7 linked regions of the Homo sapiens genome follow. The protein of the gene in region 6 purifies or fractionates together with the protein of the main gene of each other region. This does not show direct contact. Each region holds a gene or a part of one and is shown on either strand. Other genes may lie near its edges.

Evidence for each region.
Region 1: the proteins of RPAP1 (region 6) and CENPC purify together in Homo sapiens (affinity purification with mass spectrometry, with the first as the bait; one large-scale study listed by BioGRID). This does not show direct contact.
Region 2: the proteins of RPAP1 (region 6) and ARHGAP23 purify together in Homo sapiens (affinity purification with mass spectrometry, with the first as the bait; one large-scale study listed by BioGRID). This does not show direct contact.
Region 3: the proteins of RPAP1 (region 6) and SYTL2 purify together in Homo sapiens (affinity purification with mass spectrometry, with the first as the bait; one large-scale study listed by BioGRID). This does not show direct contact.
Region 4: the proteins of RPAP1 (region 6) and PHF8 purify together in Homo sapiens (affinity purification with mass spectrometry, with the first as the bait; one large-scale study listed by BioGRID). This does not show direct contact.
Region 5: the proteins of RPAP1 (region 6) and SLFN11 purify together in Homo sapiens (affinity purification with mass spectrometry, with the first as the bait; one large-scale study listed by BioGRID). This does not show direct contact.
Region 7: the proteins of RPAP1 (region 6) and IPO9 purify together in Homo sapiens (affinity purification with mass spectrometry, with the first as the bait; one large-scale study listed by BioGRID). This does not show direct contact.

Annotation. Positions count from the first base shown.
Region 1 is NC_000004.12:67,542,704-67,546,635, forward strand, and holds the start of CENPC (centromere protein C), read right to left. Parts: upstream 2,801-3,932; 5' UTR 2,653-2,800; coding exon 2,635-2,652; intron 1,493-2,634; coding exon 1,446-1,492; intron 1-1,445. UniProt on the Homo sapiens protein: Component of the CENPA-NAC (nucleosome-associated) complex, a complex that plays a central role in assembly of kinetochore proteins, mitotic progression and chromosome segregation.
Region 2 is NC_000017.11:38,508,464-38,510,674, reverse strand, and holds part of ARHGAP23 (rho GTPase-activating protein 23), read right to left. Parts: intron 732-2,211; coding exon 1-731.
Region 3 is NC_000011.10:85,727,642-85,731,141, forward strand, and holds part of SYTL2 (synaptotagmin-like protein 2), read right to left. Parts: intron 327-3,500; coding exon 1-326.
Region 4 is NC_000023.11:53,995,974-53,999,473, reverse strand, and holds part of PHF8 (histone lysine demethylase PHF8), read left to right. Parts: intron 1-3,500. UniProt on the Homo sapiens protein: Histone lysine demethylase with selectivity for the di- and monomethyl states that plays a key role cell cycle progression, rDNA transcription and brain development.
Region 5 is NC_000017.11:35,370,822-35,375,108, forward strand, and holds the start of SLFN11 (schlafen family member 11), read right to left. Parts: upstream 2,801-4,287; 5' UTR 2,653-2,800; intron 2,407-2,652; exon of another isoform or gene 2,276-2,406; intron 1-2,275. UniProt on the Homo sapiens protein: Inhibitor of DNA replication that promotes cell death in response to DNA damage. Acts as a guardian of the genome by killing cells with defective replication.
Region 6 is NC_000015.10:41,530,758-41,534,257, forward strand, and holds part of RPAP1 (RNA polymerase II-associated protein 1), read right to left. Parts: intron 446-3,500; coding exon 266-445; intron 1-265. UniProt on the Homo sapiens protein: Forms an interface between the RNA polymerase II enzyme and chaperone/scaffolding protein, suggesting that it is required to connect RNA polymerase II to regulators of protein complex formation.
Region 7 is NC_000001.11:201,867,157-201,870,656, reverse strand, and holds part of IPO9 (importin-9), read right to left. Parts: intron 2,010-3,500; coding exon 1,861-2,009; intron 1,068-1,860; coding exon 939-1,067; intron 75-938; coding exon 1-74. UniProt on the Homo sapiens protein: Nuclear transport receptor that mediates nuclear import of proteins, such as histones, proteasome and actin. Serves as receptor for nuclear localization signals (NLS) in cargo substrates.

The sequences.
Region 1 (3,932 bases), on a different chromosome or scaffold from region 6:
ACCTCAGTTTGTAAACCTAAGTAGTATTAGTGGCCGGTTTTCTACCAGAATATATATAGGTGACTATTATAAATTCTGGCCTTGACATCACCCCAAAATACCACCTACAGGTGCACATATTGCACAGCTATAAATACACTCCTGCTATTACCTGTTTCAAGGATGAGATCCAAAAAGATCAGATTTGCCAAGGTGATAATGCAGAGTCACTATTAGAACGCAGGTCACATTAGGCAACAGCTTTTTCAAAATTTATCAAATTCGTCTTTTCTTCCCCTTTGTCATTATTACCTTAGCATAAAAGCACCTCCACCATGTGTAGATTACTACAACACCCTCCTTAAGCTACTTTGTAAACATCAAACATCTTTGCTTTTTTAAATGTGTGTGTGTGTTTATATCAGATAGCCCTTATTCCACAGAAGATTTAGGAGAGCTTATTCAAGCCTATAATAGATGCCTAAAGCCTAACATATCCATTTTATGGCTCAATCCAACTCATATGGTCTTGTTTTCCACTTCTACCCAACATATTCAACCTTCTTAAATCAGGTCTCTCTGCTACTGACAAATATATGTATTCCTACTTTGGTTCCTTCGTTAAGTTACTTTCTATGTCTGGAATATACTTTATCTTAGTCTTTAAATACCTGTTCAAGGTCCACCAAAGTTACACTACAACTTTAAAGCTTTTCTTAATATCAACAACACACAAATCCCTAATTTCTCACATGGCTGTCTATACTGCAAGTTAATGCCTAATTATATATAGGCCTACTCTCTATGATACACAAGTCATTACTTCAGTATTGCAAGTAATAATTTTTGTCCATTAAATTGTTTCACAAATGTACATATACATTTTCCCAACAGAAATCTAAGCTTCTTGTAAACAAAAGAACATACTTCTGTGCCCCATTGGACCTACTAAAATCACAGCTCAATAAACATGACGTTATTCATAATAACATCTTCACTTTTAAAAACATGCTTTTCATCCTATTACTAGTAAATATTTAACTAGAAAATTTACTTTTTACAGGTTTTACAACTAAAAGAAGAACCAAAACAACCCAAACAAGCACTCAACAAATGCACGACAGCATGTACTATTTTTCTTTTTGCCCCACTGAATAAGCTACATCTTTCTAATTTTACCATTTGATTCATTCTACAAAATGCTTTTCCCATGGCAGTCACTTAGTCAGAACTGAGACTCCCTCTTCCTGGTTCCACTATTTTATCAGGTGAATTTCTTTTTTCACAGCCACAAAGTCATTGCACTGCTTGCATTAACATTCCCGTTAGTATAAGATGACTACCCTTAATCAGTGGGCACAGAAATCATTATATTAGTCAGAGGTGATAGTTTTTCCTTTCTTCATTTAAAAATCTATTAACGATGAGAATAAAAATAATCTTAAAAGCTTAAGTACGTAAATCACCTGGAAGGTCGACAAAATCTTCTTCTGTAGCCATTTTTGAGATGATCCTGAAAGAAAAGTAAATCATCAATTTGGTTTCTTTAAGATAGAGTCGAGTAAAATTTATTTTCAAAGTAACTTCATCCAGTATGGGCATGCTATACACCAAACATCTCCTAAGGGCTCAAAACAATTTTGAGGTTATGTTATGACATAACATAGGTTATGACAGGCATTTAAAAACTGAACTGCAGGCATCTGGTAAGCTTTATTCCGCTTCTCTCCCCACAGTGAGAATGGCTTTATTGCTTTCTTCTGATTATATATAATGTAAACAATATATGTGCTCATAGTAAAAAGTATAGATTATATTATTCTTTCATACAACTCTTTATGTTTATATGTATAACGTCACATAATGGGAGATCATCGAAGCTGAAGATTTTCTTAGAAGGGGAGATAAATTAGAAAAGAAATGATACGGATTTTTATATAGTAACCATAACCAAAGTATGAAATATAGAATAGTGAACACCAAAGAAGTCCAGAAATATGTAAACAAAATGAGTTGTCGCCCCCATTAGTCATTCACAGCTTGTACCTTTTAACTGATAGCTGTCTTTCAGAAGAGTTTGTCAATAACATATGCTCCATAAATCAGCCTCAAGAACTGCATAAAAGGCCACCATTTTGACAGAAGAACTGAAAACGTCAAATTATTTCGAGACGTACTTGTTACATAATCTGTTTCTCCCAACTACCAAGTGTGACGCAAAGACACACTTTTAAGGCGTTTCAATACTTCTACCATGGGGAGAAAAGTTATTTGGAGGCCTAGGAACTGGAGCTAGACTAAAAAGCAGAAGCCAAGATCGCGCCACTGCACTCCAGCCTGGGGGACAGAGCAAGACCCCGTCTCAAAAACAAAAACAAAAAAAAACCCAGCAGAAATCACAAGCACCTCTCAAGAGTAAGACGTAGGCACAGACGAAATGACGACATGAAAACTTAAGAAATAATAAAAGTACAGTAAATTAACTCTGGTTATCGACACACGATCACACTTGATTTCAAAAATTCCTGCGGCTTTCCCACTGAAATCCCTCAGAGATCACAGCCTCAGCCTAGCATTTCCTTCTCCCCAGCCTCGGGCGCCCGTGCCCCAGCCAGCCGCTCAACCACTCGCCTGGAGCGGGGGGCCTGCACTTACCAGACCGGACGCAGCCATGTTCCGGCCCCGCTGAGCCAGCGCAACTGTCTGAGGTGGAAGCCCACACGGACCACAGCTCCAGGAAGCCGAGCAAGAAACGAATCGCCGGAATACCAGGCCGCGGCCAAGCAATAACCTTAAGTCTCAGGCGACTGCCGCGAGAGCTGCGATCCGGAAGGCGCGCGCTAACAACACTCCCCCGCCATTGGCTCCGCCCTCAACAAACAAGAACGCTTGGCCTGTGCCTGGGTTTGAACCCGGAGACACATGCGCAAAACGGGCCGCGCCGTCCAATAGGAAGCAAGCCGTTAGTGGGCTCGCCCCTTCATGCTCCAGGCCAACGGCCCTCCAGCCTGCAGACCCACCCGCCCGCCCTACCTCTAGCCGCTCTGCTCTTCCCACCTCCCTTCCTCAGCGCCGCGCCCGGGACAGGCGCGAGACTGGGCTTTTATTAGGAAGGCACGATCCTGGGAACCGCTCCTTGTGCCCAATGTAAAACTTCTCAACAGTTCTATTAAGGAATAATAAGTAATACTTGGAAGGATGAGAGGTAGAAATTGCAGACGACTTTTTTTTTAATAGAATCTTTTTTTGAAGAGATTTTTCTAATGCAGATTCGTCAGCCACGCCCAGCCCATCTAACCATCATCTCTGAAAATAATTGAATAATTATGTATAATAATGGTGATGATGGCTTGTATTCTTTTTCAAGTATGTGGGCGATATTTTTATGATGCATTGCCAACAAATGACCCACGTAAATATCTATCATTTAAGTATGATGCACTGAAAAGAATTCTATACAGAATCCTGAAACCTGCCAGCCATTGACTAGCTATGTTATGGAGGGCAAAATTGCGGCACCATTCTGGGTGTTTCCATAGTGATAGAATGGAAGTCTAAATTAGACGCTCTGAAGACTTCTCACCTGACCAGTGTATGATTCTATGAAGCTGTATCTTATTTTATTATTTAATTTAAAATTACAAGAAAATTCTAATCAGAAAATAGTTTACTAATTGAATAAATACATTAATCAGGAGTTGAGCTAATAGATTTTTAAAACATGTAGTGCTTTAACAAATGCTGTCAACTATGAAGGCCAATTTTTTTATTTTATTTATTTTTTTGATAGAAAAAAAGGAACTATGATCTCTGACTGAAATTAGGCCTGGATTGCACTCCATTCCATTAATTCTGCCATTATGGGCAACTAAGTTATCTGTTCCTTAATTCTCTTGTCTGCAAAATGAGAATACTATTAAAGTGGTTGAGATGTTGTAATTGAATAATTCCTG
Region 2 (2,211 bases), on a different chromosome or scaffold from region 6:
GACAGCGGCCGCCGCAGGCGCACGGCGAGCATGTCGTCCGCCGTGCCGCGGAGCCTTAGACGCAGCGCCTCCATGCGCGAGGGCCGGGAGGCCAGCGCCGCCGCCGGGGGCCGCAGCGACTCCTGGCTGCTGGACGACGCCGAGCCGGGCGGCTCCGGGGCGCGGGGACCGCCCCGGCCCGCGCCCTCGCCGTCTGGGCGGCCCCGGGCCAGGCGGCGGCGCGCCAGAGTGTCGCAGGGCATGAGGTGGTGCGAGCTGAAGGACGGCCGGCGTGTCAGGCGCCCCCCAGGCCCCGCGCCCGCCGCGCCCTCAGTGTCCGTCTCCACGTGGCTCAGCTCGCTACGCTCGTCGTCCGCCTCATCCCCCGCCCCTGCCCGCCGACCGCTAGCGCCCGAGCACACGCTGCGGTCCATGGTGGACAGGGTGGAGTAGCCCGACACAATGGAGCGCGTGTCCGCGGCCGGCCGCTCCTCCGGCGCCGCCGGGGGACTGAGGCGTCCGGGGGCCTCGGGGGCGACGGCGCCAGGCAGCGGCCCCTGCGGCCGCTCCTGAGTCCCCGGCGCTGTGGCCCCCGCCCCAGGCTTGTGCGCCTCCTGCTCCGAGTCGTCGTCGGTGCTGCTGCCCAGCCCCCGCGCCTCCCGCCGCTTCTTGCGCTTGCGGTTGACGGCCGAGATGAAGGAGATCGCCAGCATCTCCCGGGCGTACGGCTCCTTCTTGGGGGCCCACGAACCCTGTGTGGGAGACAGGTCAGGATGCGGGGGGCGCCCGGACTCGGCCCCCTGCCGACCCCGCTCTACCCGGTCCACCCCCACGTCACGGCACCCAGTCGCCACAAGCCCCAGCCAAGGCCAGCACCCACGGCCGCATCATAAAACGCTCCTCCTCCAGCCCCGTGCCGCCCTCCGTCCAGAGACTACCCCCGCTGGCCCAAATCTAGGCTCTCAGCTCTTTCTTGTGAGGTGGGCTGGTCTCCCAAAGCCCCCTTCCATTCTGTTTTCCGTATCCAGCCCTGGCTAAATCCTTTAGACACGGCTCTGGTGATGACAATCTCTCCACAGTGAATAACGCTTGGCAGCCTGAATCCGTTTCACACACGCCCCTGGGGTGTCATCACCAGAGCTTCCTGCATGCTGATCCCCAAATCCCCGCCAGGGGCGCTCTCTGACCACAAGTCCCCCACCTCCTCTCCACCCGCTGCCACCTGGAAACCTGCCTTCCCACCTGCCCAGCATCTACAGGCCTCTCCAGGGCAACCCGCCCAAGTTCACGTCCTCCCCTTTCCGCCGGACCCCACCAGCTCCCCACCCCGCCAATCCCCAATCCCAGGTCAATCCCGCCGCCAGCTCCGCCCCTGCAAGTGGCTGAAAGATCCCGTATGGTGTCATGGTTTGGATTGGAGCCGCTCCCAAACTGTGATTTCCAACCCCAAGTTGGGCAACTTCATGCCGCTGTTCTCACCTGAACCAGCCCTCACTGCTACACCCTGTGGTGTTTTGGGGCCTTGGCCTTTCACACTTTCCCAGGAGGGCCCATGCTGCCGCCCATGGCCTTCTGGAAGCTGGTTTTCATCCGCCCTTCTGGCCTCTCCTCTGCCTCTTGGGAGGTTCTTCTTGCCCGCCCCCCGCCCCGCCCCTGCCTTCCCCTGCCTTCCCCACTGAGACTCAGTGTTCCCAGGACTGTTTTTGGCCCCTTTGCCTTCTCTGTTCGTGTTCCCTAGAAAATACCATTCCCAAGCAGCGCTGCTATCCAGGCCTCCCTGTCCAACACCACACTCACTTGAGCTCCGGGACTCTTCTTCCCATTGAGAATCCATTTCTACCTGGGTGTCTGTAGGCTCTTAAAACTCACCTATCCGGAACCACAGCATCCTACCTACCCCTGCCCCAAACTGCCTCCATTCACACTGCTCACCTTAGGGCGGTCTTGTGACTCCTCCCTCTCTCCTCCACCCACAGCCAAGTCCTGGATTCTTTTGAAATGGCTCCCAAAGCCAACTCCTCCTCCTCCTCCGGCAGGCCCTCATTCTGCCCTCTCTGGGCCCTCCTGCCCCTCCTAATAGGGTTTCCTGCCTCCACCCTTGCCCCAGCCCGGGTCTCTCCTCCAGAGCCACCATTCTGAAGCAGGAATCTGATCCTCACCCAGCTTTGCTCAGAAGCTTGCATGCCCCAGCACCCACCAGGATAAAGCACAAGTTCCCCAGTTCAGCACATG
Region 3 (3,500 bases), on a different chromosome or scaffold from region 6:
GCCATTTTCTCTTAAAGTAGTGTCATCTGTCACCAAGTCAACAGCAACCTGTGATTTTGAGTCTGTTTTTTCTTTGGACTCTATTCCTCGGGGATGTTGGAGGAATGACTTATTGTCATCTGAATAAGAACTTCGGTTAAACCAGTCTAGAACTTTAAATATGGAATCATCAGTTGACTTCTTTATCTCAGTGGCATATGGACCAGAACGTGAAGATGTCTTAGCTTTTAGAGCCGGGAGAGGAGGGGGCTTACCTTGCTGACGGTCTCTAGAACTGCCACCTGGCACCTGAGATGGCTCAGGCTCAACACAATGAGACAGTTCATCTGCAACATAGAAATACTTTTCTAAATAAGAAAAGAGCATGCTTAAAGAACTGTTAATCATTCACATCATCATCTTTATAAAAGCACTTTGTATTTGCACTTTCTATACCAATAGCTGTTTATACCAGCATTTTTCAGGGGTTAAAATGTAAGTTGTCCTAATTAAGGTATTCTACCAAAGGTGCCCTATGACAGTAAAGGAAAGGAAATGTAGAGACCTGGAAGTACATGGTATAGACCTAACCGAAAAATTTCTTTGTAGTTCCTTCTTTATTTTAAAAATACATGTGAATTTTGCATTCTGTTTCATGTTACATTTTATTTTATTATTTTTTTTGAGATGGAGTCTCGCTCTGTTGCCTAGGCCAGAGTGCAGTGGCGGGATCTCGGCTCACTGCAACCTCCGCCTCCCAGGTTCAAGCGATTCTTCTGCTTCAGCCTCCCAAATAGCTGGGATTACAGCCATGCACCACCACGCTCAGCTAATTTTTGTATTTTTAGTAGAGACGGGGTTTCACCATATTGGCCAGGCTGGTCTCGAACTCCTGACCTCATGATCCACTCACCTCAGCCTCCGAAAGTGCTGGGATTACAGTCATGAGCCACCACACCCAGCTCCATGTTACATTTTAAATGTTAATTTTCTCTTACTTTTAAATCTTTGTATAAAACTGACACTCCAGGAAGATATGCCATGCCGATTTTATGACTTCACCCATCCCCTGGCACATATCATAAACCCTAGAGGGGGCTTAAACCCAGGTTTGAGAAGCACAGACTTAAGTGATTTCAGGAGTTAGAAAAATAACTTTCAAATAAGACTAAACAAGGAATTTTATCCACAATATTTAAATGGGAAAATGAGGATATTTCCATTCCTGGGCCTTACTATTGATGTATTGAATGAGAAGAATTTCTGAAGATTGGGCACAGTAATCTTTACTAACAGCTATTCTAGTGATTGTTCTGCATACTGGGGTTTAAGAACCGTGTTTTCAATCCAACAAAGATCAAAAAGACAAAGAAGGGCATTACATAATGGTAAAGGGATCAATGCAACAAGAAGAGCTAGCTATCCTAAATATATATGCACCCAATACAGGAGCACCCAGATTCATAAAGCAAGTTCTTAGAAACCTACAAAGAGACTTAGACTCCCACACAGTAATAGTGGGAGACTTTAACACCCCACTGTCAATATTACACAGATCAACGATACAGAAAATTAACAAGGATATTCAGGATTTGAACTAAGCTCTGGACCAAGTGGACCTAAAAGACATCTACAGAACTCTCCACCCCAAATCAACAGAATACACGTTCTTCTCAGCACCACATCGCACTTATTCTAAAATTGACCACATAATTGGAAGTAAAACACTCCTCAGCAAATGCAAAAGAATAGAAATAATAACAAACGGTCTCTCAGACCACAGTGCAATCAAATTAGAACTCAGGATTAAGAAACTCACTCAAAACTGCACAACTATATGGAAACTGAACAACTTGCTCCTGAGTGACTACTGGGTAAATAACGAAATAAAGGCAGAAATAAATAAGTTCTTTGAAACCAATGAGAATAAAGACACAGCATTCCAGAATCTCTGGGACACAGCTAAACCAGTGTTTAGAGGGAAATTTATAGCACTAAATGCCCACAGGAGAAAGTGGGAAAGATCTAAAATCAACACCCTAACATCACAATTAGAAAAACTGGAAAAGCAAGAGCAAACAAATTCAAAAGCTAGCAGAAGACAAGAAATAACTAAAATCAGAGCAGAACTGAAGGAGATAGTGACACAAAAAACCCTTCAAAAAATCAATGAATCCAGGAGCAGGTTCAGGTTTTTTGAAAAGATCAATAAAATAGATAGACCATTAGCCAGACTAATAAGAAAAGACAGAAGAATCAAATAGACACAATAAAAAATGATAAAGGGGATATCACCACTGATCCCACAGAAATACAAACCACCATCAGAGAATACTATAAACACTTCTATGCAAACAAACTAGAAAATCTAGAAGAAATGGATAAATTCCTGGACACACACACCCTCCCAAGACTAAACCAGGAAGACGTTGAATCCCTGAATAGACCAATAACAAGTTCAGAAATGGAGGCAGCAATTAATAGCCTAGCAACCAAAAAAAGTCCAGGACCAGATGGATTCACAGCCGAATTCTACCGGAGGTACAAAGAGGAGCTGGTACCATTCGTTCTGAAACTATCCCAAACAACAGAAAAAGAGGGACTCCTCCCTAACTCATTTTGTGGGGCCAACATCAACCTGATACCAAACCCTGGCAGAGACAACACAAGAAAAGAAAATTTCAGACCAATATCCCTGATGAACATTGATACCAACATTCTCAATAAAATACTGGCAAACAGAATCCAGCAGCACATCAAAAAGCTTATCGACTATGATCAAGTCAGCTTCATCCCTGGGATGAAAGGCTGGTGCAACATATGCAAATCAATAAACGTAATCCATCACGTAAACAGAACCAATGACAAAAACCACATGATTATCTCAATAGATGCAGAAAAGGCCTTCGAAAAAATTCAACAGCCCTTCTTGCTAAAAACCCTCAATAAACTAGGTATTGATGGAACGTATCTCAAAATAATAAAAGCTATTTATAACAAACCCACAGCCAATATCATACTGAATGGGCAAAAGCTGGAAGCATTCTCTTTGAAAACTGGCACAAGACAAGGATGCCCTCTCTCACCACTCCTATTCAACATAGTATTGGAAGTTCTGGCTAGGACAATCAGGCAAGAGAAAAAAAAAAATGGTATTCAAATAGGAAGAGAGGAGGTCAAATTGTCTCTTTTTGCAGATGACATGATTGTATATTTAGAAAACCTCATCGTCTCAGCCCAAAATCTCCTTAAGCTGATAAGCAACTTCAGCAAAGTCTCAGGATACAAAATCAATGTGCAAAAATCACAAGCATTCCTATACACCAATAATAAAGAGCCAAATCATGAGTGAACTCCCATTCACAATTGCTACAAAGAGAACAAAATACCTAGGAATCCAGTTTACAAGGGATGTGAAGGATCTCTTCAAGGAGAACTACAAACCACTGCTCAAGGAAATAAGAGAGGACACAAACAAATGGAAAAACATTCCATGCTCATGGATAGGAAGAATCAGTATC
Region 4 (3,500 bases), on a different chromosome or scaffold from region 6:
CCCAATGCAGTCAAAAATCCACATATAACTTTTGCCTCCCTAAAACCTTAACTGCTAACAGCCTACTGTTGACCAGAAGCCTTACCAGTAATATAGTCAACACATATTTTGTATATGTTATTTGTGTTGTATACTGTATTATTACAATAAAGTAAGCTGAAAACATGTGTTTACTGTTCATAAAGTGGAAATGAATCCTCATAAAGGGCTTCATCCTTGTCTTCACATGGAGTAGGCTGAGGAGGAAGAAAAAGGAGAGGGGTTGGTCTTGCTGTCCCGGGTGGCCCAGGCAGAAGAAAATCTGCATATAAACGGACCCATACATTTCAAACCCATGTTGTTCAAGGGTCAACTGTATATCCAGTTTTGTGTTTGAATCTATTGGTTTGTCTTAATTTTCCTGTGTCACCAAAGTTCTCCAGAAACATTTAATAGTTATGTGATATTCTTTTGCAGGAATGTACCATCCTTGCCTAACTACTTGCTTATTGCTGCTTCCTTTTTATTTCTTTGAGGGGATAGTTTTAAAGAATCAGACAGTAAATATCAGTCTTTGTCCCTCATTTCTTGATTGTTTCTTCAGGATGGATTCCTGGAAGAACAATTACTGAATCAAAGTATATGAAAAAATGTAAGGCTCTTGATGCATACTGCCAAAGTGGGTTTTAGAAATGTACAAATGTCCATTTATCCAACTGAACATTAATCAACTATAAAAAAAAATAAGAAAGCTCTGTATGTACTGATTTGGAAAGATCTCCAAAATTTGTCAAGGTGCACAACCGTGTGTATAGTGTGCCACTTTATATGTAAAAAGGGGAGAAATAAGAATTATGTTAGTATATACTTGCCTGGATATATGATCTGGGATGTAGAAACTAATGAAAATGGTTACCTGTGGGAGTGGGATGATGGGATTGATGGCAGGGGCAGGGTGGGATTGATGGCAGGGACAGGGTAGGAATGAAGCTTTTCAATATCATTTTATTTTATTTTATTTTATTTTATTTATTTATTTATGAGACAGAACCTCACTCTGTCGCCCAGGCTGGAGTGCAGTGGCACGATCTCAGCTCACTGCAGCCTCTGCCTCCCAGGTTCAAGCGATTCTCGTGCCTCAGCCTCCTGAGTAGCTGGGATTACAGGCATGTGCCACCACGCCTGGCTAATTTTTGTATTTTTAATAGAGACGGGGTTTCACCATGTTGGCCAGGCTGGTCTCGAACTCCTGACCTCAAGTGATCCATCCACCTCAGCCTCCCAAAGTGCTGGGATTACAGGCATGAGCCACCACACCTGGCCTGCCTTTCTTTTCTAATGTAAGCCTTTAGCTGTTAATTTCCTTCTCAGCACCAATATTTGATTTTTGACCTATGTGAACGAATTAACTTTTCAGAATACTGAATTTAAAAAACACACCAAGAAATCAAGAGAAGAAGAAATGTCAACATGTAATCTTAGGCTTCAGATACTCCCTTTCCTGTGTATACTGTGACCAAAGGTCACTGCACTGCAGGCTTAACTTGTACAATCTCCTTAGTTCCTGTTGCCAACCTTCCCCTCGGATATTCTTGGATTTCATATTTTGAGCCTTCCCTTGCTCCCTGGGCTCACCTACACCTGGACCTTAGCCTGTGATTCTGTTTCTCCACACCTCTCAGGTGTGGCTACCTTGGGTTTCATCTCTGACACCTCCCATGGAGTGAACTTTAGAGTGACTGTGTCCCAAAAACACCAAAAGGGAGGTGGGTGTGGCCCAAGCACTCATGACTCAGGATGGACCCAGGGACCAAGGGATGGCCCCAAACAGAGTGATCAGTGGGAGCTGGAGTAGAGTAGAACACAGTTCTGAGAAGCCCATGCTCATGGAAGGAGTCTTTTGTGAAGTGCAGATGATTTGTAGGGGAGGAACCTGCTCCCTCACCTTTCCAGAGACCCTGGTCTGGGAAGGAGGAAGCCATAAGATTATTTAGCTGGGTCACATGGATTCTCAGCTCCCCGCCTAGCCACCAAAATAAATTCCACCAGATAGATGAAAAGAGTTAAAGGGAAAAAAGAGAATTAAACCATGAGAAACAAGGAAATGCTGAGGAATTTTTTATCAGCCCTCTGGATACAGAAATGAAGTGAAAAGTGGTAGAAAAAAAATCACAAAGGAAGAAAACCTTGAGATCTACATAAAAATGTAAATCTCGGTACTCAAAAAGAGGGCAAACGAAAGAGAGACAACTAACAGGGATCGCTCTGGGTTGCTGTTGAGCTAGCTGTGGGCCAGCAGCTGCTCAGCACAGAGTTCTTTCCTCACAAGTGGAGAGGCTGGTTTGTCCCCACTGATCTCCCTGAGGTCCTTGACTTTTTTGAGGGGTGTGGCCCAAACCCACAACTTAGTTCCTAATACCTTTTGATACTCTTTTATTAGATAGATGTTTTACAAATATTTTCTCTCAGTCTGTGCCTTACAAAGTAGCAGAGGTGCTGAAATAGAGGTTTTTCAAAAAAGTTTTGCTTTTTAAGTCCAGTTGATCAACTTTTTTCTTTTCTGGTCCATGCTTATGTCCTATCTAAGAAATCTTTGCCTAACTGAAGGCCACAAAGAACTCCTCCTCTGTCTAAAGCAGGGGTTTCCAGCCGGGGTGCAGTGGCTCACGCCCGTAATCCCAGCACTTTGGAAGGCCGAGGCGGGTGGATCACCTGAGGTCAGGAGTTTGAGACCAGCCTGGCCAACATGGCGAAACCCCATCTGCACTAAAATTACAAAAATTAGCCGGGCGTGGTGGTACGTGCTTGTAATCCCAGCTACTGGGGAGGCTGAGGCATGAGAATTGCTTGAACCCAGGAGGTGAAGGTTTCAGTGAGCCGAGACCACCACACCACTGAACTCCAGCCTGGGTGGCAGAGTAAGACTCTGTCTCAAGAAAATAGTAAGAAGTAAATAAAATATAGCAAGGGTTTCCAACCTTTTGGCTTCCCTGGGCCACCTTGGAAGAAGAATTGTCTTGGGCCATACGTAACGATAGCTGATGAGCTAAAAAAAAAAAAAAAATTACAAAAAATATCATAGGCTGGGTGCAGTGGCTCATGCCTGTAATCCCAGCACTTTGGAGGCCAAGGCGGGTGGATCACCTGAGGTCAGGAGTTCGAGACCAGCCTGGCCAACATGGTGAAACCCCGTATCTACTAAAAACACAAAAAATTAGCTGGGCGTAGTGGCTCACTCTAGTCCCAGCTACTGTGGAGGCTGAGGCAGGAGAATCGCTTGAACCCGGGAGGCGGGGGTTGCAGCAAGCCGAGATGGTACCATTGCACTTCAGCCTGGGCAACAATAGTGAAACTCCATCTCAAAAAAAAAAAAAGTCTCATAATGTTTTAAGAAAGTTTGCTAATTTGTGTTGAGTTGCATTCAAAGCCATCTTGGGCAGTGGGTTGGGCAAGCATGGTCTAAAGGGTGTATAGTTTTAGGTTTTACATTTAGGTCTATGATCCATTTTAAGTTTGTGTTT
Region 5 (4,287 bases), on a different chromosome or scaffold from region 6:
AAATATGGAAAGGGGAAATATACCCATGTTCATGGATTGGAAGAATCAATATTGTTAAAATATCCATACTTCCCAAAGCAATCTACAGATTCACTGCAATCTCTATTAAAATATCAATGACATTCTTCACAGAAATAGAAAAAACAATCCTAAAATTTATATAGAACCACAAAAGACCTATAATAGCCAAAGTTATCGGAAGCAAAAAGAACAAAACTGGAGGAATCACATTACCTGACCTCAAATTATACTACAGAGCTACAGGAACCAAAATAGCATGATACTGACATTAAAAACAGACACATAGACCAATGGAACAGAATAGAGAACCCAGACACAAATACACACACCTAAAGTGAACTCATTTTTCACAAAGATGCCAAGAACATACACTAGGGAAAAGACATTCTCTTCAATAAATGGCACTGGGAAAACTGGATATCTATCCGCAGAACAATGAAACTAGACTCCTAACTCTTGTCACATATAAAAATCAAACGAAAATGGGTTAAAGACTCAAATCTAAGACTTCACACTGTGAAACTACTACAAGTAAACATTGGGTAAGATCTCCAGGACATTGATCTGAGCAAAAATTCATTGAGCAATACCCCACAAGCACAGGCAACTAAAGCAAAAATGGACAAATGGGATCACATCAAGTTAAAAAGCTTCTGCACAGCAAAGAACGCAATCAACAAAGTGAAAAGACAACCCACAAAATGGGAGGAAATATTTGCAAATTAACCATCCAACAAGGGAGTAATAACCAGAACATATCAGGAGCTCCAACAACTCTATAGGGAAAAAAATCTAATAATCCTATTGAAAAATGGGCAAAAGATTTGAATAGTCATTTCTCAAAAGAAGACAAATGGCAAATAGGCATGTGAAAAGGTGCTCAACATCACTGATCATCAGAAAAATGCAAATCCAAACTACAATGAGATACCATCTCATCCAAGTTAAAATGGCTTTTATCCAAAAGACGGGCAATAACAAACGCTGGCAAGGATGTGAAGAAAAGGGAACCCTCAAACAGTGTTGGTGGGAATGTAAATTAGTACAACTATTATGGAGAACAGTTTGGAAGTTCCTCAGAAAACTAAAAATAAAGCTACCACACAATTCAGCAATTCTACTCCTAAGTATTGACCCAAAAGAAAGGAAATCAGTATATCCAAGAGACATCTGCACTCCTATGTTTCCTGCAGCACTGTTTAAAATAGCTAAGATTTGGAAGCACTCTAAGCGTCCATCAGCAGATGAATGGATAAAGAAAATGATGTGCATATACACAATGGAGTACTATTCAGCCATAGAAAAGAATGAGATCCAATCACTTGCAACAACACGAATGGAACTTGAAATCATTACGTTAAATGAAATAAGCCAGGCAGAGAAAGACAAACATCACATGTTCTCACTTATTTGTGGCATCTAAAAATCAAAACAATTGTATTCTAAGAGCAGAAGGATGACTACCTGAGGAAGGGTGGTAGGAGGGAAGGGGTGAGGTGGGGAGAGTTAATGGGTACAAAAAAATTAGAATGAATAAGACCTACTATTTGATAACACAACAGTTATTATAGTCAATGATAACAATTGTACGTTTTTAAATAACTTAAAGAATGTAACTGGATTGTTTGCAACTCAAAGGGTAAATGCTTGAGGGGATGAATACCCCATTCTCCATGGTGTGCTTATTTCACATTGCATGTCTGTATCAAAACATCTCATGTACCCCATAAATATACACATCCACTATGTACCTACAAAAATAAAATAAAATAAAATAAAAACTAATGAGCATAATTGGATTGTTGGTAACACAAAGGATAAATGCTTGAGGCGATGGATACCCCCATTTACCGTGATGTGATTATTAAACATTACATGCCTGTCTTAAAATATCTCATGTAACCCATAAACATATACATCTACTATGTACCCACAGAAATTAAAAATTAATTTAAAAAAAAAGAAAAGAAAGGGAAATGGGCTGCGACAGATGTGCCCTCTTGGAAAACTAAAACTTAGAGCTCTTTGTCCTTCTGGGGTAGCACGTGTATTCTACAGATCTTGTCCAGAGGGAGACATTTTTCTCATTTCTCCCCCCTCTAGATTATAAATCTCCCCGCAGGGCAATGGCAATTCTAATTCTGCCTTTTAGTTTCTATATTAAGGAAAATAGTTTAGAGTGGTTGGTCGGTCACATAGACAGCTGTAGAACTAGTTTCTCAAGTTTAAAATACCAATAACTCTGAAACCTGAGATCTGCAGCCCTGGGAGCCACCAAGGTGCACTCAGTGGCCTTCTAGGCTTCGGTTCCTGCTCCGCGCCCCGCAGAAACCGCGGCTGGCTGGCCAGGGGCTCTTCCAACTTCCAGCGGGAGCAGGTGCACAGGTCAGGCCCGCCCCGCCCCTAATGCCTTCTACCCCCATTACCCACCCCCGCCCCGCCCGCCAGTCCTCCATAGTCCGCTTTTTAGGGAACCTGCTGAGCAAACTAGCTGGGCCCCCGGACAGGGGAGAAAAGCACAGATACCCCCACTCCACTCCACCCCCAGCCCCTCCGCACCCCTCCAGCCCCTCCCCACACCCCACACCCTGGCTGGGGTGGGGTGGGAAGGGTGCTGCTCCCTTCTCGAACCTGGCACTCGAGTTACAGCCCGACGCGGATTCGGCTGGGCTAGACCCTGAAGCACGGGTAGAAACGCAACTCCGGAGTCCCAGGCTGGGGGCAAGGACCCTCTCTGACCTCTCAAGCTCCAGCGCTTCCGAAGCCCCCTTAGCGTTTCCCTGGAGGCGCCCAGGTCGAGTCCTTATATACTAGCGGGTTGGCGCCATCCCACGCACATCCCACGCAGGAGATGCAAGAGCCAATGGGCGGGTCTGCTAAGCCCGCGAACTCTGCCGCGTTAAATTGCCTAGAAGCTCCCACCCTTCTGACTGTTGCCACGTAGTTCTTAGTTTCCGGGAATTTGGGGATTTTTTCCTCCCCCTTCTTCCCACCCTTCCTCCGTCTCCTCGCTCCCTCCATCCATCTCTCCCTCCCTATCATCTATCTATTCATCTATCTGGATTACAGCAAAACAAAGAATAAAGATTATGAAGAAAGAGAAGAACTTCCCAGGCCCAAGCAGCTGTCGGCTCCTGCGCTCCCAACGGGGTGGCCGTTTCCTTCCTCGCACCCTCTTCTCTCCCGGTGCCTGCGGTCCCACCTTCCAGATACCCCTCGGAGAGTCCAGCTGAGCTCTCGCCAGAGCTTTCCCCTTCCAACCCGCTCGACTTGCCCAGATCCCAAGCTGGGCTTCTCTCTCCATCGCCCCAGAAAGTGGGTCTTGGAGACCGAGGCAAGAATTTGGGCCTCCGCTTCTGTTCCAGACCCCGGACCCCTTGCCAAAATGCGGCAGATGTGCAGATTGGGCCGCGCTTGGTTCCTGGCTGGGTTTATGGAGCCTGCGGCTGAGGCAGGCTCCGCAGACCCCGAGCCAGAGTGGGATTTAACGGCGGCCGGTGCGCTGTGCTTGGTCAACCCCGGTAACCGTCACGCTGCTAGTGATATGAAAAAAACCTGCCAGCGTTCTGCTTTTCTGCCCCGCTGCAGTCTTTAGCACCCGCCAGGATTCTGTCCGAGTGTTTGGATTTTGTAATCCTCCTGTCTTTGGCCAACTCCCCATCCTTGGCGGAGCGCTCGCCCTTGGCCGGGCTCCGTGCTGCCAGCCTTGCGGAACCCTAGGCCCGGGCGGCTCTGTCGGAGGCCCACTTCTCACTGATGCGGAGTGGCCCGAGGGTGGGAGCAGCGGTTAATGCCGCACTGATTAATACAGGCTCCAGTGAAAGCGAAAGTAAGAAAATAAAACGGATTTCATTATACATATACAATGTGTGTATGGATACATGTACATACATATTACACTTATGTGTATGTTACGCACGTTTGTTAAAATGAGGTCATAATGTTCATGCTGTTTCATAACCCACTTTCTTTCAATGACCACCTTTTCATTTCAGTAAATCTTCGTATTCTCATGTTGCAGCTTCTCCATTTTTCTTTAACATGTTTACAGAGAGTCTGTGCAAACCTGTACCAAATCCAGAACCATGCATCTATAACGTGCTAAAAGATTGTCAACCTAGAATCCTATAACAACCACAAAAAAGGCCTACCTAAATGGAGGCAAAGTAATGACTTCAGACAAAAAAAAAAAAAAAGGAAATCTGAAAATCTGAGGGAATTTGTCACCAGCCGATCTTTCTTATGAAAAAATATTAAAGGAAGTTC
Region 6 (3,500 bases):
GTGGAGTGGGATTCAGCCATCACGCATTGCTGCCTCTTAAAAGGGAAGGCGGAGAAGGGGCAGTAACAGGACAAGAAAACAGGAAGCATGTGCAGGAAGAAGACATGCATCAGCAATGAAGACTGACTTGAAGCCAATAATGAGGATTAATGTTAGATGTCCAAAAGCACAGAAGCTTCTCTCTTCTCTCATTTGCCAGGCCTAGGAAAAGGGACAATTTCCCCTACTTTTATCCACCAAAATATGACCCCCGCCTCCTGCAAACCTGGGGCTTCTGGCTCCAGCTTGTCTCTCTTCCTGGGCTCACTGGCAAAAGCTGACATGAGGGGTTCCTCCTTGGTGACATTAGCAGAGGGTCCTCCTGGCCTCTGCTCCTCAGAGGCTGTCTCTCCTGTTTGCTCTTGCGTGTGGCTGTGAGATCTCAAGAAAGCAACCAAGCTGGGGTCTAGAGGCGAAGGTAGAGGGGAGAGTGAGTGAGGGTAGATCCTCCCTGGCCTCCTACAGACCTGGAACCCGCTGAATATCGCCTGTCTGTGGGTGCCAAGGACAGGACAAGCTGCTTCCGAGCCTGGGCCTGAGCCTTCTGGGTGCTCCTGTGGCCCATCAATGACCCAGCCTTCTCACACCTGTGGGGTCACTAGGCCCACCTGCCCACCTGCCCACCTTTCCCTCTATCCCTCACAGTCCACTGGCCCAGGTTCCTATGCCTATCCCTTTGGTTTCAGGTCACAGTTCCAATGTAAGTGGCTGTAGAATGAATAAGTTAATGTTGACTAGGGCCAAAAAGAAGGCATTTACAGAAAGAATTTCCTTCTCTTAGCTAATTTATTTATGCACACACACATATATATATATATATATATATATATATTTTTTTTTTTTTTTTTTTTTTTTTTTTTTTGAGACGGAATCTCGCTGTGTCGCCCGGGCTGGAGTGCAGTGGTGCAATCTCAACTTACTGCAACCTCCATCTCCCAGGTTCAAGGGATTCTCCTGCCTCAGCCTCCTGAGTAGCTGGGATTAAAAGTGCCTGCCACCACGCCTGGCTAATTTTTGTATTTTTACTAGAGACGGGGTTTTACCATGTTGCTCAGGCTGTAAATATATATTTTTAAAGAGATAGGGTCTTGCTCTGTTACCCATGCTGGAGTGCAGTGGCACAATCGTAGCTCACCACAGCCTCAAACTCCTGGGCTCAAGCAATCCTCCCGCCTCAGCCTCCCAAGTAACTGGGACTACCGGCATGCACCACCATATCTGGCTAATTTTTTTTTTTTTTTTTGAGACAGAGTCTCACTCTGTCGCCCAGGCTGGAGTGCCATGGCACGATCTCGGCTCACTGCAAGGTCCGCCTCCCGGGTTCAAGTGATTTTCTTGCCTCAGCCTCCCGAGTAGCTGGGACTACAGGCGTGTGCCACCACGCCCAGCTAATTTTTGTATTTTTAGTAGAGACAGGGTTTCACCGTGTTGGCCAGGATGGTCTCAATGTCTTGATCTTGTGATCCGCCCACCTCAGCCTCCCAAAGTGCTGGGATTACAGGCGTGAGCCTCCACACCTGGCTGTAATTTTTTATATCTTTATTTTTTGTAGAGATGGGGTCTCATGATGTTCCTCAAGCTGGTCGTAAACTCTTGGCCTCAAGCAATCCTCTCACCTCAACCTCCCAAAGTGCTGGAATTACAGGGCAAGGCACCATACTGAGCCCTAACACGTATTATACTCTATAGAGGTGCTAGTATACAGTGGGTAACAAGATTGACTGAGTGCCTGGCATTTTGGTGAACAGACACTAGGGGTGAGGCATAGCATAGAACAGTATCACAGAGTAGAAGAGACTATACATATACTAGAGTATAGCTATAATAAAGCATAGTGTATACTATACCAGGGTAGTACAGTTATACATAGCACAGTGGTTAAAAAGTAGGGCCTCGGCTGGGCACGGTGACCATCTCAAAAAAAAAATCGCAGCACTTCAGCAGGCCGAGGCAGATGGGTCGCTGGAGGTCAGGAGTTCAAGACCAGCCTGGCCAACATGGTGAAACCCATCTCTACTAAAAATACAAAAAAATTAGCTGGGTGTGGTGGTGCACATCTGTAATCCCAGCTACTCAGGAGGCTGAGGCAGGAAAATCGCTTGAACTAGGGAGGTACAGGTTGCAGTGAGCTGAGATCGTGTCACTGTACTCCACCCAGGACAACAGAGCGAGACTCCGTCTCAAAAAAAAAAAAAAAAAAAAAAAAAGCAGGGCATATGAGACCAGGTAGATCTGGGTTTAAATCCTGTGTCCTGTGCTTCTTATAAGGTGTGTGACCTGGGTAGAATTTCTTTTAAATTTTAGGCCTCAGTTTCTTTCATAAGTAAAATAGGGTTAATACCACCTACCTCACAGGACAAGTTTAAGGACAGAACTGAATAATGCATTAAAGGTCAGGCACGGTGGCTCATGCCTGTAATCCCAGCACTTTGGGAGGCTGAGGTCGGTGGATCACTTGATGCCAGGAGTTCGAAACTAGCCTGGCCAACATGGTGAGACCCCATCTCTACTGAAAATAAAAAAAATTAGCCAAGCATGGTGGTACACACCTCTAATTCCAGCTGCTGAAAAGGCTGAGGCACAAGAATCACTTGAACCTGGGAGGCAGAGGTTGCAGTGAGCCGAGATCGTGCCATTCCACTCCAGCCTGGGTGACAGAGGGAGACTCTGAAAACAAAAAACAAAAAACAAAAACCAACCTGTGCAATATAGTGAGACCTCATCTCTACAAAAACCTTAAAAGAAATTCGCTGGGGGCCAGGCACGGTGGCTCACACCTGTAATCCCAGCACTTTGGGAGGCACTTTGATCCACCTGAGGTCAAGAGTTCGAAACCAGCCTGGCCAATACAGGGAAACCCCGTCTCTACTAAAAATACAAAAAATAAAAAAATTAGCCAGGCATGGTGGCAGGCGCCTGTAATCCCAGCTACTTTGGAGGCTGAGACAGGAGAATTGCTTGAACCTGGGAGGCAGAGGTTGCAGTGAGCAGAGATTGCGCCATTGCACTCCAGCCTGGGCAACAAGAGGAAAAATCCGTCTTAAAAAAAAAAAAAAACCTAGGCGCAGTGGCTCCAGCACTTTGGGAGGCCAAGGCCAGTGGATCACCTGAGGTCAGGAGTTCGACACCAGCCTGGCCAACATGGTGAAACTCCGTCTCTACTAAAAATACAAAAATTAGTTGGGTATGGTGGTGGGCACCTGTAATCCCAGATACTCAGGAGGCTGAGGCAGGAGAATCATTTGAACCCAGGAGGCGGAGGTTGCAGTGAGCCTACGTCGCGCCATTGCACTCTAACCTGGGCAACAAGACCGAAACTCCATCTCAAAAAAAAAAAAAGGCCGGGCATGGTGGCTCATGCTTGTAATCCTAGCACTTTGGGAGGCCGAGGAGGGCAGATCACCTGAGGTTGGGAGTTCGAGACCAGCCTGACCAACATGGAGAAACCCTACCTCTACTAA
Region 7 (3,500 bases), on a different chromosome or scaffold from region 6:
CCCTGCTCATCATGCCACTGGGCTACTTGTTCCAGGGTCACTGACACATAGGCCCGCAAGCACTCTCCGCCATTCTGGGGAGACAGGGGTGGCAAGCAAGATTAGTAATCGAGGGACAGATGCCAGAAGGCCCTCAGTCTGTATAAACAAATGTTCCCAGAGGCCTATGCCTCATAAAAGCGGTGAGTCTATAATGTTTGTGGTGGGCTCATACCACTGGAGTTAAGACATTTACTGTTACAGACATAGACGTGCATTACATAATTCCCCCTTTACCTAATCAGCTATCTCACAAATGTGTATATATATTTTTTTAATCACAAGGGACAATGGCCAAGCAAAATGAATTTTAATCATAAAGGTCTACCTCTGGTACTAAAAAAATATGCTTACAATCTTGGAATAACTGGGGATACTGTAGGTCTTTATATAGGTCTTACACAAACCACTAGTTGCCTAGGGATTTCCAAGCTGATCAATATTCACTGGCAAGTTCCTATAACCTTTCTAATCAATCACAGTAGCAGACACCTGAAAAGGTAACCAATTCACCCAAGAAACAAAAAGAGAAAAAATATTCAGGCATGTCTCCCCTCTCTAGAGGCCCATCACTCTGCTGACTTTATTACTAGAAGAAATATGCAGAAAGACTTTCTTATGGCCCCAAGTCTAGATGTCTGTAACCTCTTTCACAGTAGCAATACCCAATACAGATGGGCAGGGTGCTTGGTATCCATATTTTTAAAAACTGTAACATGCTCCAAAGCACCAGAAATGCTTGGCTTTTGCAGACTGAACCCTTCCTGAATCTGCTAAGTAAATATGGAGTTGAGAATTCCGTATTTCAAAAGCATAAAACCATGTCAGATTTCTCAGCATAGTATAAGCCCATGGCTGGGGAGCTATCTTCCCTCTTCTACTCTCCATGTCTCAGATACCTGCATGGTGGCATTGTCATCTGTGTGAAGGGTACACTGTGCCACAGCAGGGAAAGCTTGGCAGATGAGAAGCTGGGAAAGGGGAGGCTTTGTATTTCGTACTACTGTTGTCAGGATATCAATGGCTGTCTGAAAGAGAGAAGAAAAAGAAAAGTCAGAATTGCCTCTGGGGTGGGGGTTGCCCAACAACCAAGATCCTTACTGGATGGGTATTACATAGCAACCCAGAGAAAGCTTATTAATGAAAGGCAAGTTTCCAAAATAAAAGGAATAATTAAATGGGTAGTACTCTCAGCCTTCTCATAATAGCTTACTAATTGATTAGCCATAGGGGTGGGCAGTAGTACATGGTAGTGGATTGGATAACCAGGTGACATACTTAGTGGCACTGTGTAAAGGTGGCACTCTGTTCAATTCACTGAGGGTACCTCTGGAACAAGAAGAGCCATTTTCTTTCTTTCTTTCTTTTTGAGGCAGTCTCGCTCTGTCACCCAGGCTGGAGTGCAGTGGCACGATCTCCACTCACTGCAACCTCTGCCTCCTGGGTTCAAGTGATTCTCCTGCCTCAGCCTCTTGAGTAGCTGGTACTGCAGATGCCTGCCACCATGCCCGGCTAATTTTTGTATTTTTAGTAGAGATAGGGTTTCACCACATTGGCCAGGCTGGTCTCGAACTCCTGACCTTGTGATCCACCCACCTCGGCCTCCCAAAGTGCTGCAATTATAGGCATGAGCCACCGCGCCAAGCCAAGCCATTTTCTTAAAGCTTCAGAGAATCACCCACTGTCCTTGCAGGCAAAAGAGCTCAGCAAAATCACCCCATGAATCTCTAACGCTATTAGGTTCTTGTCAGCTAGATGCATCTGTGGGTGGCACTTGTAGATCTCTCTCACACACACACACACACACACACGGCCACTTACCGCACAAAGCCCTGCAGGAATCTTGTCTGCTGGGGCCTGCATTATGCTGACCAGAGTGGGAATCAGCCTCATTTGCATTGGGCCCTGACAGGCTTCAATCTGGGACAGCTCCTTGAAGATGTCCTGAGCCAGTGAGGCGACGACGGGATCTGAAGTGGATAAGGCAACACGGAATCCCCCTGCCTGATGGTCTGCATCTGCTTCTCGCTTAATGATGCCTGTTGTTTGGCCCTAACCTAAGTTAACAACTTCTGCATTGATTACTTATCACATACCCGGGACCTAGTGGGGCCACATGAATAACCTGAAAGAACAGGAGAGATCCTAAATCTGCAAGAGGTACACTTTGTATGGCTTCATTAAAGTAGGGACTAGTCATTAACAGCTACTCATAAAACAAAATGTGGCTTTTTCTAGAGAAAAATCTTTAAAGTCTTTATTCTTGTGAAACCTACGTTATAAAACCAAATGCTTAAAAAAAAAAAAAAAGCCCAACTGATACTTTAAGAAGACATGAAAGCTGCAAAAATTGCCAAAACACTGGCTTTGATGCATGAGAGAAATCATACATATCTCCTATGGGGTAGCCACGGTAGACATGAAGAACTCTCAAAGCTACTTCTGGGGCAAAAGGCAAAACTCCTAAAAAGCAGAGCCTTATGAAGAAAGGGAACTTTAGCTCAATCTTCTTTATCTATAGAACAAAACATCCTCCTCTATTTAGTATGGAAAAATATAGGCAATGTGCATTAAAGTATACCTTAAAAGATCACTGCAGCATTGTTTGTAATAGAAAAAAATTGGGAATACCCTAGATGTCCATTAACAGAATGGGTAAATTATGATATACCCATTTTATGGAACATTAGTAATGGCTGAAAAGAATGAGATATATCCAAGAACACAATGTGGAAAGCTCCTCAGTACACATTTTTCAGTGAAAAAGCTATCAAATAACATGTTCAGTATATCACATTATATAAATAATCCTTATCCTGTACATCTTTCTGAGCTTCAATATTGGAGCTCTCTCTTTAAAAAAAGAATCCTTAATATTTTACTAGTAATAAGGTATTAATAAATACATTCACTACAGGAAAAAAAAAACTTAAAATGCAGAAAAGTAATAATGAAAACACCTGTAATTCCACTACCTAAACACTCAACATTTTGATGTATTTTTTTTTAAAACATACCTATCTATACATACATGCTTTTCTAAAAGAAAAATCAAAACTTGGGATCATATTCTATGGATTTTTTGGGAAAAGTATCTTTTCATTTATTATAATGTAAGCTCTTTCCCATGGTTTCAGATATTCCTTTTAAGCTTGATTTTTAATGGCTGCACAGTATTTCATTTTATGGATATAATTAACTAATGTCTTTTTATAATTTCCAAATTTTTACTACTGTAAAAAATATCTAGTGAATACCTTTGTTTATAAACTTTTCCATATATCTTTCTTTAGTATCTCCTTTTCTAAATTATAGTCCTAGCCCTTTTCTTTTAGGAGGCTTTTCATTTGCCCAATTTCCTATTCTATCATCAAAGTTCTGAATTATGTCTCTTGCTTATTAGCCCTTTATTTATTATCTTTATCCCTAAGTCCTTACTAGAGAGTAAGTGTTACAGAAAT